Linked DNA regions of Homo sapiens. The protein of the gene in region 1 interacts with the protein of each later gene in a biochemical or structural test. Each region holds a gene or a part of one and is shown in the gene's direction. Other genes may lie near its edges.

Evidence for each region. The genes of interacting proteins can lie anywhere in the genome.
Region 2: the proteins of CCNB1 (region 1) and UBE3D form a complex in vitro, tested with the Homo sapiens proteins (one study listed by BioGRID).
Region 3: of the proteins of CCNB1 (region 1) and ZC3HC1, one has a biochemical effect on the other in vitro, tested with the Homo sapiens proteins (3 studies listed by BioGRID, with this or other methods).
Region 4: of the proteins of CCNB1 (region 1) and RB1, one has a biochemical effect on the other in vitro, tested with the Homo sapiens proteins (2 studies listed by BioGRID).

The regions. Positions count from the first base shown.
Region 1 is NC_000005.10:69,173,650-69,177,149, forward strand, and holds part of CCNB1 (G2/mitotic-specific cyclin-B1), read left to right. Parts: intron 1-601; coding exon 602-760; intron 761-1,227; coding exon 1,228-1,464; intron 1,465-1,747; coding exon 1,748-1,888; intron 1,889-2,174; exon of another isoform or gene 2,175-2,278; intron 2,279-3,500. UniProt on the Homo sapiens protein: Essential for the control of the cell cycle at the G2/M (mitosis) transition.
Region 2 is NC_000006.12:83,020,842-83,024,341, reverse strand, and holds part of UBE3D (E3 ubiquitin-protein ligase E3D), read left to right. Parts: intron 1-303; coding exon 304-373; intron 374-1,518; coding exon of another isoform or gene 1,519-1,531; exon of another isoform or gene 1,532-1,673; intron 1,674-1,780; coding exon 1,781-1,889; intron 1,890-3,500. UniProt on the Homo sapiens protein: E3 ubiquitin-protein ligase which accepts ubiquitin from specific E2 ubiquitin-conjugating enzymes, and transfers it to substrates, generally promoting their degradation by the proteasome.
Region 3 is NC_000007.14:130,017,792-130,020,374, reverse strand, and holds the end of ZC3HC1 (zinc finger C3HC-type protein 1), read left to right. Parts: intron 1-1,642; coding exon 1,643-1,711; 3' UTR 1,712-2,083; downstream 2,084-2,583. UniProt on the Homo sapiens protein: Required for proper positioning of a substantial amount of TPR at the nuclear basket (NB) through interaction with TPR.
Region 4 is NC_000013.11:48,376,751-48,380,250, forward strand, and holds part of RB1 (retinoblastoma-associated protein), read left to right. Parts: intron 1-167; coding exon 168-284; intron 285-2,843; coding exon 2,844-2,900; intron 2,901-3,084; exon of another isoform or gene 3,085-3,124; intron 3,125-3,302; coding exon 3,303-3,334; intron 3,335-3,414; coding exon 3,415-3,491; intron 3,492-3,500. UniProt on the Homo sapiens protein: Tumor suppressor that is a key regulator of the G1/S transition of the cell cycle. The hypophosphorylated form binds transcription regulators of the E2F family, preventing transcription of E2F-responsive genes.

The DNA.
Region 1 (3,500 bases):
ATAATGTAGTATCTTTATTTGGAAGGGAGTGGACCAGCAGCAGTTGTGGTGAAGAATATCGTAAGACCTGACAATATAAAAAAGCTGTCATACTGTCCTATCTAATGTTTGCCTTTTTTTTCTTTTTTTTTTGGGGTGGGGAGACAGTCTCACTCTGTCACCCAGGCTGGAGTGCAGTGGTGCAATCTCGGCTCCCTGCAACCTCCACCTGCCAGGTTCAAGCAATTCTCCTGCCTCAGCCTCCCAAGTAGCTGGAACTACAGGTGTGCGCAACCATGCCCAGCTAATTTTTGTATTTTTAGTAAAGACAGGTTTTGCCATGTTGGCCAGGCTGGTCTCGAACTCCTGGCTGCAAGCAATCTGCCAACTTCAGCCTCCCAAAGTGCTGGGATTACAGGCGTGAGCCACCACGCCAGCCTTCATGTTTGCTTTATTTCTTGGTGATGGTGTTGTTTGTGGTTGACCATATGAATAATTGAATTAAGAACTGATATAGATTATAAATGCCCCAGTGCTACTGTAGGAACTAACTGATCTTTCTGGACATAAATGTGTCACATGGAGTCATGTTTCTAAGAATAATCAGCATTTTCTTTTGCAGGAAGAGCAAGCAGTCAGACCAAAATACCTACTGGGTCGGGAAGTCACTGGAAACATGAGAGCCATCCTAATTGACTGGCTAGTACAGGTTCAAATGAAATTCAGGTTGTTGCAGGAGACCATGTACATGACTGTCTCCATTATTGATCGGTTCATGCAGGTGAGCATTTCAGTAAGAGTTTTCCCTTCCAGGATTCTAGCCGAGTCATAAGAAACTGATGTTTTCAGGCCAGTCTGGGCGCAGTGGCTCATGCCTGTAATCCCAGCGGGCGGGTGGATCACAAGGTTAGGAGATCGAGACCATCCTGGCCAACGCAGTAAAACCCTGTCTCTACTAAAAATACAAAAAATTAGCCGGGCATGGTGGCGGGCGCCTGTAGTCCCAGCTACTGGAGGCGGAGGTTGCAGTGAGCTGAGATCACGCCATTGCACTCCAGCCTGGGTGACAGAGCGAGACTCAAAAAAAAAAGAAAGAAATAAACTGACTTTTTCAACTAAAATCTTTCTTGGGGGATATGGTGTCATTAAGATTTTGCTATGGGAGAATGTCTTTCTACCTCTCCTTCATCATAGCTCTGTGTCTCCTTTTCAAACATTTTATTCACCCTATTGAAATTCCCATTGCAGAATAATTGTGTGCCCAAGAAGATGCTGCAGCTGGTTGGTGTCACTGCCATGTTTATTGCAAGCAAATATGAAGAAATGTACCCTCCAGAAATTGGTGACTTTGCTTTTGTGACTGACAACACTTATACTAAGCACCAAATCAGACAGATGGAAATGAAGATTCTAAGAGCTTTAAACTTTGGTCTGGGTCGGCCTCTACCTTTGCACTTCCTTCGGAGAGCATCTAAGATTGGAGAGGTACAGGTTTCTTGAGAAACCTCTCCGTATGGGTACATTAGGGGGAACACTGCTGCTGACCAAGCACGTTGAATTCAACTGACCTGTATTATACCTAACTACATGGGGAAGGGATAAAGTTGTTCTTTATTTCTAGTCAGGCTGCATGTTAATATTAGGACTTTCCATGGGCATTTGAGAGTTTGTAGACAAACATTTGTAGTTAAAGATACATATGGGCATGCAGGTTAGTGCCAAAGGAAAATTTTCTGAAAGAAACTCAGTAACATGGGTTTTGTTTCAGGTTGATGTCGAGCAACATACTTTGGCCAAATACCTGATGGAACTAACTATGTTGGACTATGACATGGTGCACTTTCCTCCTTCTCAAATTGCAGCAGGAGCTTTTTGCTTAGCACTGAAAATTCTGGATAATGGTGAATGGGTAAGCTGTGTCCCACAGAACTCCTAAGCTTTTAAATTTTAAAGAGTGACTAAATACAGAACTTTTGTTATTAAAAGGCAATTCAAGTGGTTCATAAATATGGGATCTACTGAAGGAATAGTTAAAAAAGATGTCTTAGAATGTTTCCACATCTTTTTGTTTTTGAGACAAGGTCTCGCTCTGTCACTCAGGCTGGAGTGCAGTGGTGCAGTCTTGGCCCACTGCAACATCAGCCTCCAGAGTAGCTGGGATTACAGGTGTCTGTCTAGTTTTTAAATTTTTTTCATGTCAGATGGGTAATATGCCCACATTGTAACAAGGTTTGAGGGTGGCACGTTTCACATGTTCACATGAACACCAAATCATCACACTTATGAACTACAAAAGAGTCGCCCACCAGCCTGGGCAACATAGCAAATCCTCATCTTTACAAAAAATATATAAAATATATATATATATATATATATATATATATATACAGGCACACGCCTGTAGTCCCAGCTACTCTGGAGGCTGAGCTTTGTATTTTTTGTAGACATGGGGTCTCTCTATATTACCCAGGCTGGTCTTGAAACTCTGGGCTCAAGCGATCCACCCACCTCCACTTACCAAAGTGTTGGAATTACAGGCGTGAGCCATTGCAACCAGTCGAGTGTTTCCATTTCTTTCCCTGATTTCAACTTTATTCCCTTTGAGAAAGGTAGAGCAACTTTTACTCCTTACAGATGGAGAAACTTGAAGGTCAAATGACATACTAGTAGTTCATTCATATTCATTGATTCAACAAATGCTTCTCCTATGTGACAGGCACTACCCTAGGTCTTTTTTTGTTTTTTCGAGACGGAGTCTCTCTCTGTCGCCCAGGCTGGAGAGCAGTGGCGTGATCTCGGCTCACTGCAACCTCCGCCTCCTGGGTTCATGCCATTCTCCTGCCTCAGCCTCCCGAGTAGCTGGGACTACAGGTGCCTGCCACCACGCCCGGCTAATTTTATATATATATATATATTTTTTTTTAGTAGAGATGGGGTTTCACCGTGTTAGCCAGGATGGTCTTGATCTCCTGACCTCGTGATCCGCCCACCTTGGCCTCCCAAAGTGCTGGGATTACAGGCGTGAGCCATTGTGCCCGGCCTACCCTAGGTCTTAAGAATAGAACTATGTAGCTGGGTGCAGTGGCTTACATCTGTAATCCCAGCACTTTGGGAGGCAGAGTTGGGCAGATCACGAGCTCAAAAGTTCAAGACCAGCCTGACCAACATGGTGAAACCCTATCTCTACTAAAAATACAAAAATTAGCCAGGTGTGGCAGTGCGCGCCTGTAATCCCAGCTACTCAGGAGGCTGAGGCAGGAGAATCACTTGAACCTGGGGGCGGAGGTTGCAGTGAGCCGAGATCATACCATGCACTCCAGCCTGGAGCGAGACTCCATCTCAAAAAAAAAAAAAATTACAAAGTTGGCCTCAAGGAAGTGGAGTCTAGTTTTAGGGTGGGCAAGTCAGCAATTACAAAAGTGCAATTAGGTTTGAGCAGAGGAAGCATGAGAGCACCTAGGAAAGGAGTCTTTAGCTTTGTCTTAAATTTCAGTTATATTAATTATACAGTACCCATCTCT
Region 2 (3,500 bases), on another chromosome or scaffold:
GACTAATTTCTATCTAAGTGCACTATGCCTGTGATGTGACTAACTTTTATAATCTTCCATATGTGTAAGCAGAGTCTCTGGGCATTATTTTCTAAAAAGACACAGAAGCTTCAGAACTATCTCCTTGTAGTGACCAATGCTTTGTCTTCTGAAACTAAGTAGTTTTGGGAAAATGTTTACAGAATATTAATTTTACCAGTATATTTAATATTTAGTTTGGAATATCCTAATTTGGAGTCAACTTGCCCACAATAAAATTATTAGTGTATTGGGGAGAGTCTTAATTTTCTTTTTTGTTTCTAGAAACCACCAAGTTTTATATGACAGAGATAATTATTCAGTCATCTGAGAGGAGTTTTCCTATCATACCAAGGTACAAATAGCAAATTACATTTATTTATTTGTAATTTATTTTTTTCCCCATTCAGACCTTTATTTTTTATTTTTTGGTTTTGAATTTATTTTTTATTTTAATAGGTTTTTGGGAACAGATGATGTTTGCTTACATGAATAGTGATAATTTCTGAGATTTGGGTGCATCCATCACACAAGCACTGTTCACTGTACTCAAGTGTAGTCTTTTATCTCTTACCCCTCCCCCTGCCTTTTCTCCAAGTCCTCAAAGTCCATTGTATTATTCTTATGCCTTTGCATCCTCATAGCTTCGTTCCCACTTATGAAGGAGAACATACGATGTTTGGTTTTCCATTCCTGAGTTACTTCACTTAGAATAATAGTCTCCAGTTACATCCAGGATGCTGTGAATGCCATTATTTCGTTCCTTTTTGTGGCTAAGTAGTATTCCATGGCATATATTTGTAATTCCAAATGTAGGAAAAAGGAAGTACAATTGATCATATGGGAATTCATTTTTATTCATACCTTTCTTTATTTGGAAAAGGAAAGAGAAAGCCTTTTTGATAGTTGAACCAAACCACACATATAAAAGTTTTGAGGATTTTAAAAAATGTTTTGATCATATAGTGCTGTAGACAAATGTGCTCTTATAAATCTTCTAATTCTGAAAGTTTTCTATGCTTATTTCTATGTGCCAGATATCTAGAATCTTATCACCCAGTCACCAATAAGTTTTTTGAATAATTTCTGGTTTTAATTTGAATTATTTAAAATTTGAAACATGGGTCAGTTTCAAATGACTCCTATGTTTTAAAAACATGGTACTTAGTCACTAAATCTATTAGTGTTTTTATTTCTTTGACTCTTTAGTTTGCAAACAAGTTAACCATGATATGTCTTTATTCCAGTTTATTTGTTGATATCCAAAAATTATAGCAATCTTTGAGTATAGCCTTGAACTTATCCTTATGTAAATACTTTGATTCTGTACCTCAGAGCTGACACTTTAGGGAGATCCAAATGGAAGAAAATGTAGACAATACTGTCTGATGTTTGGAAGGAAATTTCTTGCCTTCTTTTGTAAGTTAGTTATTCTCTGTTTAATATGCTACAGCACAAATGGAGTATTGACTTGTTCTAACATGGTATTTTTTTATTCAGTAGGGGTGAATAGTTAGGTTTGGTGTGGAAAGTGTATCAAGGATTGGAGAATAGGTTTTAAGAAGAATGGAGCAAACCTGAATACATTAAAATATATTAAAATCCACATCAGTGCAGATTCTGAGGGAATGAGCAGTCCGTAGAAAAGTCTGGCATGTGGATATGTCTGCCTTTTAGGTACCGTGTGTGTATTTTTTGCTTATCTTGCCAGTTAGAGTTATTATGAGATACACATTGTAAAAATTGATTTCTGTTCAAACAGGTCTTGGTTTGTCCAGAGCGTGATCGCCCAGTGTCTGGTGCAGCTCTCCTCTGCTAGAAGCACTTTTAGATTCACGATTCAAGGTCAGGATGACAAAGTGTATATCTTGGTAAGAAATTATTTTATCCAGCTTTTTGTAGCCTAGGAATCCAAGGTCTCAGAATTCTTCAGTTTTTTCATCCTTTTTTCTTAATTCTCAGGTGTGGAAAATAAGTGATTAAAAATGTTAATATCAGGCTGGGCACGGTGGCTTATGCCTGAAATCCCAGCACTTTGGGAGGCCAAGGTGGGTGGATCACTTGAGGTCAGGAGTTCGAGACCAGCCTGGCCAACATGGGGAAACCCCATCTCTACTAAAAATACAAAAATTAGCCTGACATGGTGGCCCATGCCTGTAGTCTCAGCTACTCAGGAAGCTGTGGCAGGAGAATCGCTTGAACTCAGGAGGTGGAGGTTGCATTGAGCCAAGATGGTGCCGCTGCACTCAAGCCTGGGTGACAGAGCAAGACTCCATCTTAAAAAAAAAAAAGTTAATATCAGTTTAATTCATAAATCAAACTCCTTTATTTTAATAACAGATGATCAAGTGCCTCTATGTACTAGGTACTACGGATACAGAGAAAAATCCTGATTCCTGCTATTTAGAAGCTCATACCACAAAATCAGGGTTTTTTTGTTTTTTGTTTTTTTTTTGAGATGGAGTATCACTCTGTCGCTCAGACTGGAGTGCAGTGGCGTGATCTCAGCTCACTGCAAGCTCAGCCTCCTGGGTTCATGCCATTCTTCTGCCCCAGTCTCCCGAGTAGGTGGGACTACAGGCGCCCGCCACCACGCCCGGCTAATTTTTTTGTATTTTTTTAGTAGAGACGGGGTTTCACCATGTTAGCCAGGATGGTCTCGATCTCCTGACCTCGTGATCCACCCACCTCGGCCTCCCAAAATGCTGGGATTACAGGCATGAGCCACCACGCCCAGCCAAAATCAAGTTTTTTACTCTCAGTTTGTAATGGCTTTTTTGGGGTCACTATAACACTATTCTGTCCCACTTTTTTTTTTTTCCTATTTAGTACTCTTATGTTTAGAATATGTCCTATTGCTCCTGTTTGTTTTTTGTTTTTTTGAGACAAGGTCTTACTCTATCACACAGGCTGGAGTGCAATGGCATGATTATGACTTAACCATAGCCTCGACTTCCCAGGCTAAAGTGATCCTCCCACCTCAGCCTTCTGAATAGCTGAGACTCCAGGCCTACTCCACCATTCCCAGACAATTTTTAAATTTTTTGTGAAGACGAGGTCTTGCTATGTTGCCCAGGTTGGTCTCAAACTCCTGGGCTGAAGTAATCCTCCCACTTTGGCCTCCCAAACTGTTGGGATTATAGTGGGATTACAGGCATGAGCCACCATGCCTGGCCTTCTTCTGTTGTTTTTAATTGCCTCTGATTCTGTGATATTTGAGAAACAGTGGCAATTTTTGAGGAAGAGGCTCTGTGGCTAGCAATCATCCCAGCATGTACCACTAGAGCCTAATATTACACTACCTCTGAAAAACAGTGTCCTGCAGAAGCAAATTTTGAGCATTTATCTGGATAGTCAAGAATCATAGCCCAAGTATCTTCTCTGCTTCTACATCTATTTTATTCAACCAGTAAACAGGTATGGAGCACTTCTTATATGAAAGACACTGTTCCAGGTGCTCAAGGTAGAACACAAATGCCTTC
Region 3 (2,583 bases), on another chromosome or scaffold:
AGGAGAATTGGGAGGTGGAGGTTGCAGTGAGCCGAGATCGCACTACTACACTCCAGCGTGGGCAACAGAGTGAGACTCCCTTTCAAAAAAAAAAAAAAAAGAAAAAAGTGTATACTATTTTTTCAACTCAGGTTTCTTTCAACTTTGTCACTCTATTAACTAAATTTCCCTCAGTCATTAGTAAGAGTTCAAACTTTTTCCTCCTGGAACTTATTGAAACATCCTCAAAGAGGATAGATTTTTAAAAAACTGTGAAAGTGGGCCGGGCGCAGTGGCTCACGCCTGTAATCCCAGCACTTTGGGAGGCCGAGGCAGGCAGATCATGAGGTCAGGAGATCAAGACCATCCTGGCCAACATGGTGAAACTCCATCTCTACTAAAAATACAAAAATTAGCTGGGCGTGGTGGCATATGCCTGTAATCCCAGCTACTCAGGAGGCTGAGGCAGGAGAATCGCTTGAACCAGGGAGTCAAGAGGTTGCAGTGAGCTGAAATGGCACCACAGCACTCCAGCCTGGCGACAGAGCGAGACCTGTCTCAAAAAAAAAAAAAAAAAAAAAAAAAACCTGTGAAAGCGTCATATGAGAAACTGGAGGTAACTGTGGATCATCTTGCTAGACATTCTTTGTACTCTCACTGAGACCCTTTCTGCGTGGAATACTTGCTCTTCATTGTGACTCTCAAAGGCAGACAGAACCAAGTGTTCTGATTCACCAAGAGCTTTTGTCTCCTAATGAATTACTTTGTCTCCCTTTACCACCATTTCTCAGAATCTCAGAGTACTTCATTGGCATGATCAGATGGCACTGCGATTCTTCCTATTATTAGCACTGCTGGCTAAAACATAAAAGCGGTGAAGACCAAGGCCAGAGCTTAAACTCATAGGGGTCATTCAACTCTGTTTTTATTAGTTGTCCTTGGTTTATACTGTTAACCTCAGCTAGGCATCACATTAAGTATAAGTACTTATTCACAATAAATAATGAACTAGGGCCAATTCAGCATCATGAATGAAAAACCAGTGCAGGCCGGGCGTGGTGGCTCACGCCTGTAATCCCAGCACTTTGGGAGGCCGAGGCAGGCGGATCACGAGGTCAGGAGATCAAGACCATCCTGGCTAACACGGTGAGACCCCCATCTCTACTAAAAATACAAAAAATTAGCCAGGAGTGGTGGCGGGTGCCTGTAGTCCCAGCTACTGGGTGAGGCAGGAGAATGGCGTGAACCCGGGAGGCAGAGCTTGCAGTGAGCCGAGATTGCGCCACTGCACTCCAGCCTGGGTGACAGAGTGAGACTCCGTCTCAAAAAAAAAAAAAAAAAGAAAAACCAGTGCAAAACATGTGCTGTACTAACGGCAAGTCAGAAGTGTCATCCTCAAGTACAAAGATGAGGACAGATACAGATGCCTGAAGGGAGGATATGAGCCGTGTCTTAGAGGCTCAGAGTGTGTTAACAGGAGTCTGACAGTAGAACGTTGGCCCCTCGATCTTTAGTCTGACTTTAGGTATACATTATGTATAGCATACTACAAAATGAATTTTTACTTAGTCCTAGACATATCCAGATCATTGTGGGACAAATGATCTATCCTTTGTCTCTATAAAAGAACGTAATCACTAATAATAAGCTTTTCTACCTACAGAGTCTCTCTGAGAAATCAAGGAAAGTATTCCGAATATTTCGGCAGTGGGAATCTCTGTGCTCATGCTGAAGATACTCCAGCGCCTTCCTGGAGATAGCTGGAATGAGAGTGACTTTTTGAAAAATTAAGGCTGAGTTCCTTTCGGTCAGCTGACACTAAGTTTTTCCTGTTCTGGGTTAATCATAAGGAGCCCCCTGCCATAGCAAAGGCAGTGAGTGTCAACTATCTGCATCTGGCTGAGAGAGACCCGTTTCCTTTCAGGGATGTGGACAGGGTAAGGGCAGCAAGCATGGTTCTGTTAAAGGAGTGTGGGATTAACAGACTAGAAGGAAGACTAAGGACCTGACCACCCATTTCAGCATCTTCAATGTGGAGCAGTGTTCTGAGGACTCTTCTATCCTAGGACTATGACAGTGTGTATTAATAAAATATTTGCTAAGATTCTCATTGTTGGAGAACTGTTTTCCCCCTTGCCCTGTGGGCCGGAGAAACTTCAGTGGAACATTCAACTTTTGATTTTCAGATTGGCTGCAAAGCCTAAAATTTGTGATTCCAGTCAAGGAGGTATAATCTTTCCTAAACCAAAAGCAAGATGATTTTCATTATGCCACCAGGAAATTTCCTGGTGTGTTATAGTGAATGGTCAACTGATAATTTTCTCCTTGCTTTGATAATAACAGAATAAAACAATGTAATGGGGAGGAAGGCACTTCAGAAGAGACCCCTCTCCATGTGCCATTGAATGCATGAGTCCCCCAGTTGGGCTTCCCCAAGACTCGTTGCTTTTGGGGGATCATCAGTTTTTGTGGTAGAGAAGGTGGACCCTGAACTGCCCACTGATAAAGTAACCATGACCTAGCAAAGGCTAGAAAGTGATTATTCTCTGATATGCCATGTTTTTCGTCACTGAGATTGTTTTGTTTTATACTTTTGTACTGAAG
Region 4 (3,500 bases), on another chromosome or scaffold:
GAAATGATATTGTCTGCTTATGTTCAGTAGTTGTGGTTACCTAGTTATTATGGAAGTGTTTCCACATTTTTATGAACAATTTAAAAAGTCATATATTATGGAGCAGAAAATATTAATTCTGATTACACAGTATCCTCGACATTGATTTCTGTTTTTACCTCCTAAAGAACTGCACAGTGAATCCAAAAGAAAGTATACTGAAAAGAGTGAAGGATATAGGATACATCTTTAAAGAGAAATTTGCTAAAGCTGTGGGACAGGGTTGTGTCGAAATTGGATCACAGGTAACTTGAATTCATTGTAATTCGTGGTACTATAGAGTAATAATATTAAAAGCAGCATCTTTCCAGTTCGTATAAATACTCTAACAGTATTTGTCTAGTAGTATAAAATACTGTCAGATACTATATCCCTGCTGCCTGTGTATGCTGCTATTTATGGGTAACTTTATGGAAAACTACCTCCCACCCCATTATAAAAACTATGTAATAAAGGAACACATAGCCATTGTAGAAATTTTGGAAAATACAACTAAGAAAAAAATTGAAATCTTTGATATTAAATTTTTGATTTTGCTTTGACTTCTACATGTATGACTGTTCATGTATGCATATCCTAATGTGAATGGGACTATACATGCCATTTGTCAGTGATATTATTGAGTGATATTATTTCAGGAAATCTAAAGCTAATATAATAGGTAAGAGTATGGGCCATGGAGTGACAGCCCTGGGTTTATATTTGGTTCTACCATTGTTGATCTTGGACATGTCATTTAACTTCTCTGAGATTCAGGTTCTATATTTGCTCTGCTTTGTTGTGTGGCATTAATGAGGATAATATACAAAAATATATTGGAAAACTGGAGTCCACTGTACACATTTATTTCAGTGTAGTGAGGTTATATTTTGATGCCATCAGTGTTTTAAACATTGATATTTAATGGTTCTTTTTGATTCTACAGCCATGCACCACTTAACAGGGATATGTTCTGACAAATGCATCATTAGGCAATTTTGTTGTGTGAACCTGGTAGAGTGTGTCTGTACAAACCTAGATGGTATAGCCGATTGTACATCTAAGCTGTATGATATAGCCTATTCATTCCTAGGCTACAGGCCTCTACAGCATGTGTACTGAATACTGTAGGTAATGGTAACATAATGTGTTACCATTTGTGTATCTAAATATATCCAAACATAGAAAAGGTAAAGATATAGTACAAAAGATAAAAAATGGAACATTTGCACAGAGCACTTACTATGAAAGGAGCTTACAGGATTGAAAGTTGCTCTGAATGAGTCAGTGAGTCGAGTGGCAAGTGAATGTGAAGGCCTACAATATTACCTATGACATGACTGTACACTATCGTAGACTTTATAAATACTACACTTAGGCTAAACTAATTTCATAAACATTTTTTCTTTCTTCAGTAGTAAATTAACCATAGCTCACTGTAACTTTTTTACTTTATAAATCTTCAGTTTGTAAGAAACTTTTGACTCTTATAACACTTAGCTTAAAACACAAACACCTTATACAGCTGTACAAAAATATTTTCTTTCTTTATAATCCTTATTCTGTACACTTTTTTCTATTTAAAAATTTTTTCAATTTCATAAAGATTTTTGCCAAAAACAAAGGCAAACACACACATTAGCCTAGGCCTACACAGGATCAGGATTAACAATACCACTGTCTTCTGCCTCCAAATTCTGTCCCAAGTCTTCAGGGACAATAAAATGCATAGAGCTGTCAACTCCTATGATGATGATGCTATCTTCTGGAATATCTCCTGAAGGAGCTGCCTGAGGGTGTTTTACATTTAACTTTTTTTTTTTTTTACAAGTAGAAGGAGGATGCTCTAAACTAATAAAAAGTATAGTATAATAAATACATAAACCAGTAACATGTTCATTATTAAGTATTATGTACTGTACATAATTGTATGTACTATACTTTTATATGACTGGCAGTGCAATAGGTTTATTTACATCAGCATCATCACAAAGATGTGAGTAATGTAATGCATTGCACTACATTACACTAAACAATAGGAATTTTTCAGCTCCATTATAATCTTATGGGACTACTGTTAGATATGCAGTCAGTTATTGACCAAAAACGTTGTTATGCGGTGCATGATTATATATGAGATTTTTGCTCTTAGTTTGGAAGGAAATAATATGGTGTGTGTTTATATTTCTAAAATTTGGTTATTCTTTCAAATAATGGGAACTAGTTATTTGGCTAAAACTTCTTGCTCATAAGGTCAGTTTGATCTGATTTTTGCCTGTGTCAGTTTTACTAAATTTATGGACAAAGACTGTCCTCTTAATCCTGGACAGCTATCTTGAAAATACATGTCCTAGGTCATGAGAAATGTTATATAAGGTACATAAAGTGCTTAAAATAGTACTGGGCACATAACCTATCTTTAGTATGAATGATATAAACTGAAATGGAGTTAAGGAAATCCAGGTACTGGACCTACCCTCTTGTTAATTTACTTGGGAATGTTAATCACCACTTAATACTTAAGTTGTGAGTTTTAGACAAGCTAGCTTTTGTGTTGTCTTGGCGGCCATATTTGTAAGAAGGGTGAGAAGTATGTTTTAAGAAAAGGCTTTTTAAAAAATTTTAGTAATTGTCAGCTGGGTATAGTGGTACATGCCTATAATCCCAGCCTCTTGGGAGGCCAAAGCAGGAGGATCTCTTGAGCCCAGGAGTGTGAAGGCCAGCCTGGGCAAAACAGTGAGACTCCATCTCAAAAAAAAAAAAAATTTCATAATTGTGATTTTCTAAAATAGCAGGCTCTTATTTTTCTTTTTGTTTGTTTGTAGCGATACAAACTTGGAGTTCGCTTGTATTACCGAGTAATGGAATCCATGCTTAAATCAGTAAGTTAAAAACAATATAAAAAAATTTCAGCCGGGCGCGGTGGCTCACGCCTGCAATCCCAGCACTTTGGGAGGCCGAGGTGGGCAGATCAGGAGGTCAAGGCATCAAGATCATCCTGGCCAAAATGGTGAAACCCTGTCTCTACTAAAAGTACAAAAATTAGCTGGGCGTGGTGGTGTAGACCTGTAGTCCCAGCTACTTGGCAGGCTGAGGCAGGAGAATCCCTTGAACCAGGGAGGTGGAGGTTGCAGTGAGCCAAGATTGTGCCATTTCACCCCAGCCTGGCAACAGAGCAAGACACCATCTAAAAAAAAAAAAAAAAAAAAAAAAAATTCAATGCTGACACAAATAAGGTTTCAATTAAACAACTTCTTTTTTTTTTTTTAAATTATCTGTTTCAGGAAGAAGAACGATTATCCATTCAAAATTTTAGGTAAATTTTTTACTTTTAGTAAAAAATTTTTTTCTTTTTATAGAAGTAAGTATTTTATAATCTTTTTTTTTTTCCTTTAGCAAACTTCTGAATGACAACATTTTTCATATGTCTTTATTGGCGTGCGCTCTTGAGGTTGTAATGGCCACATATAGCAGTAAGTTAA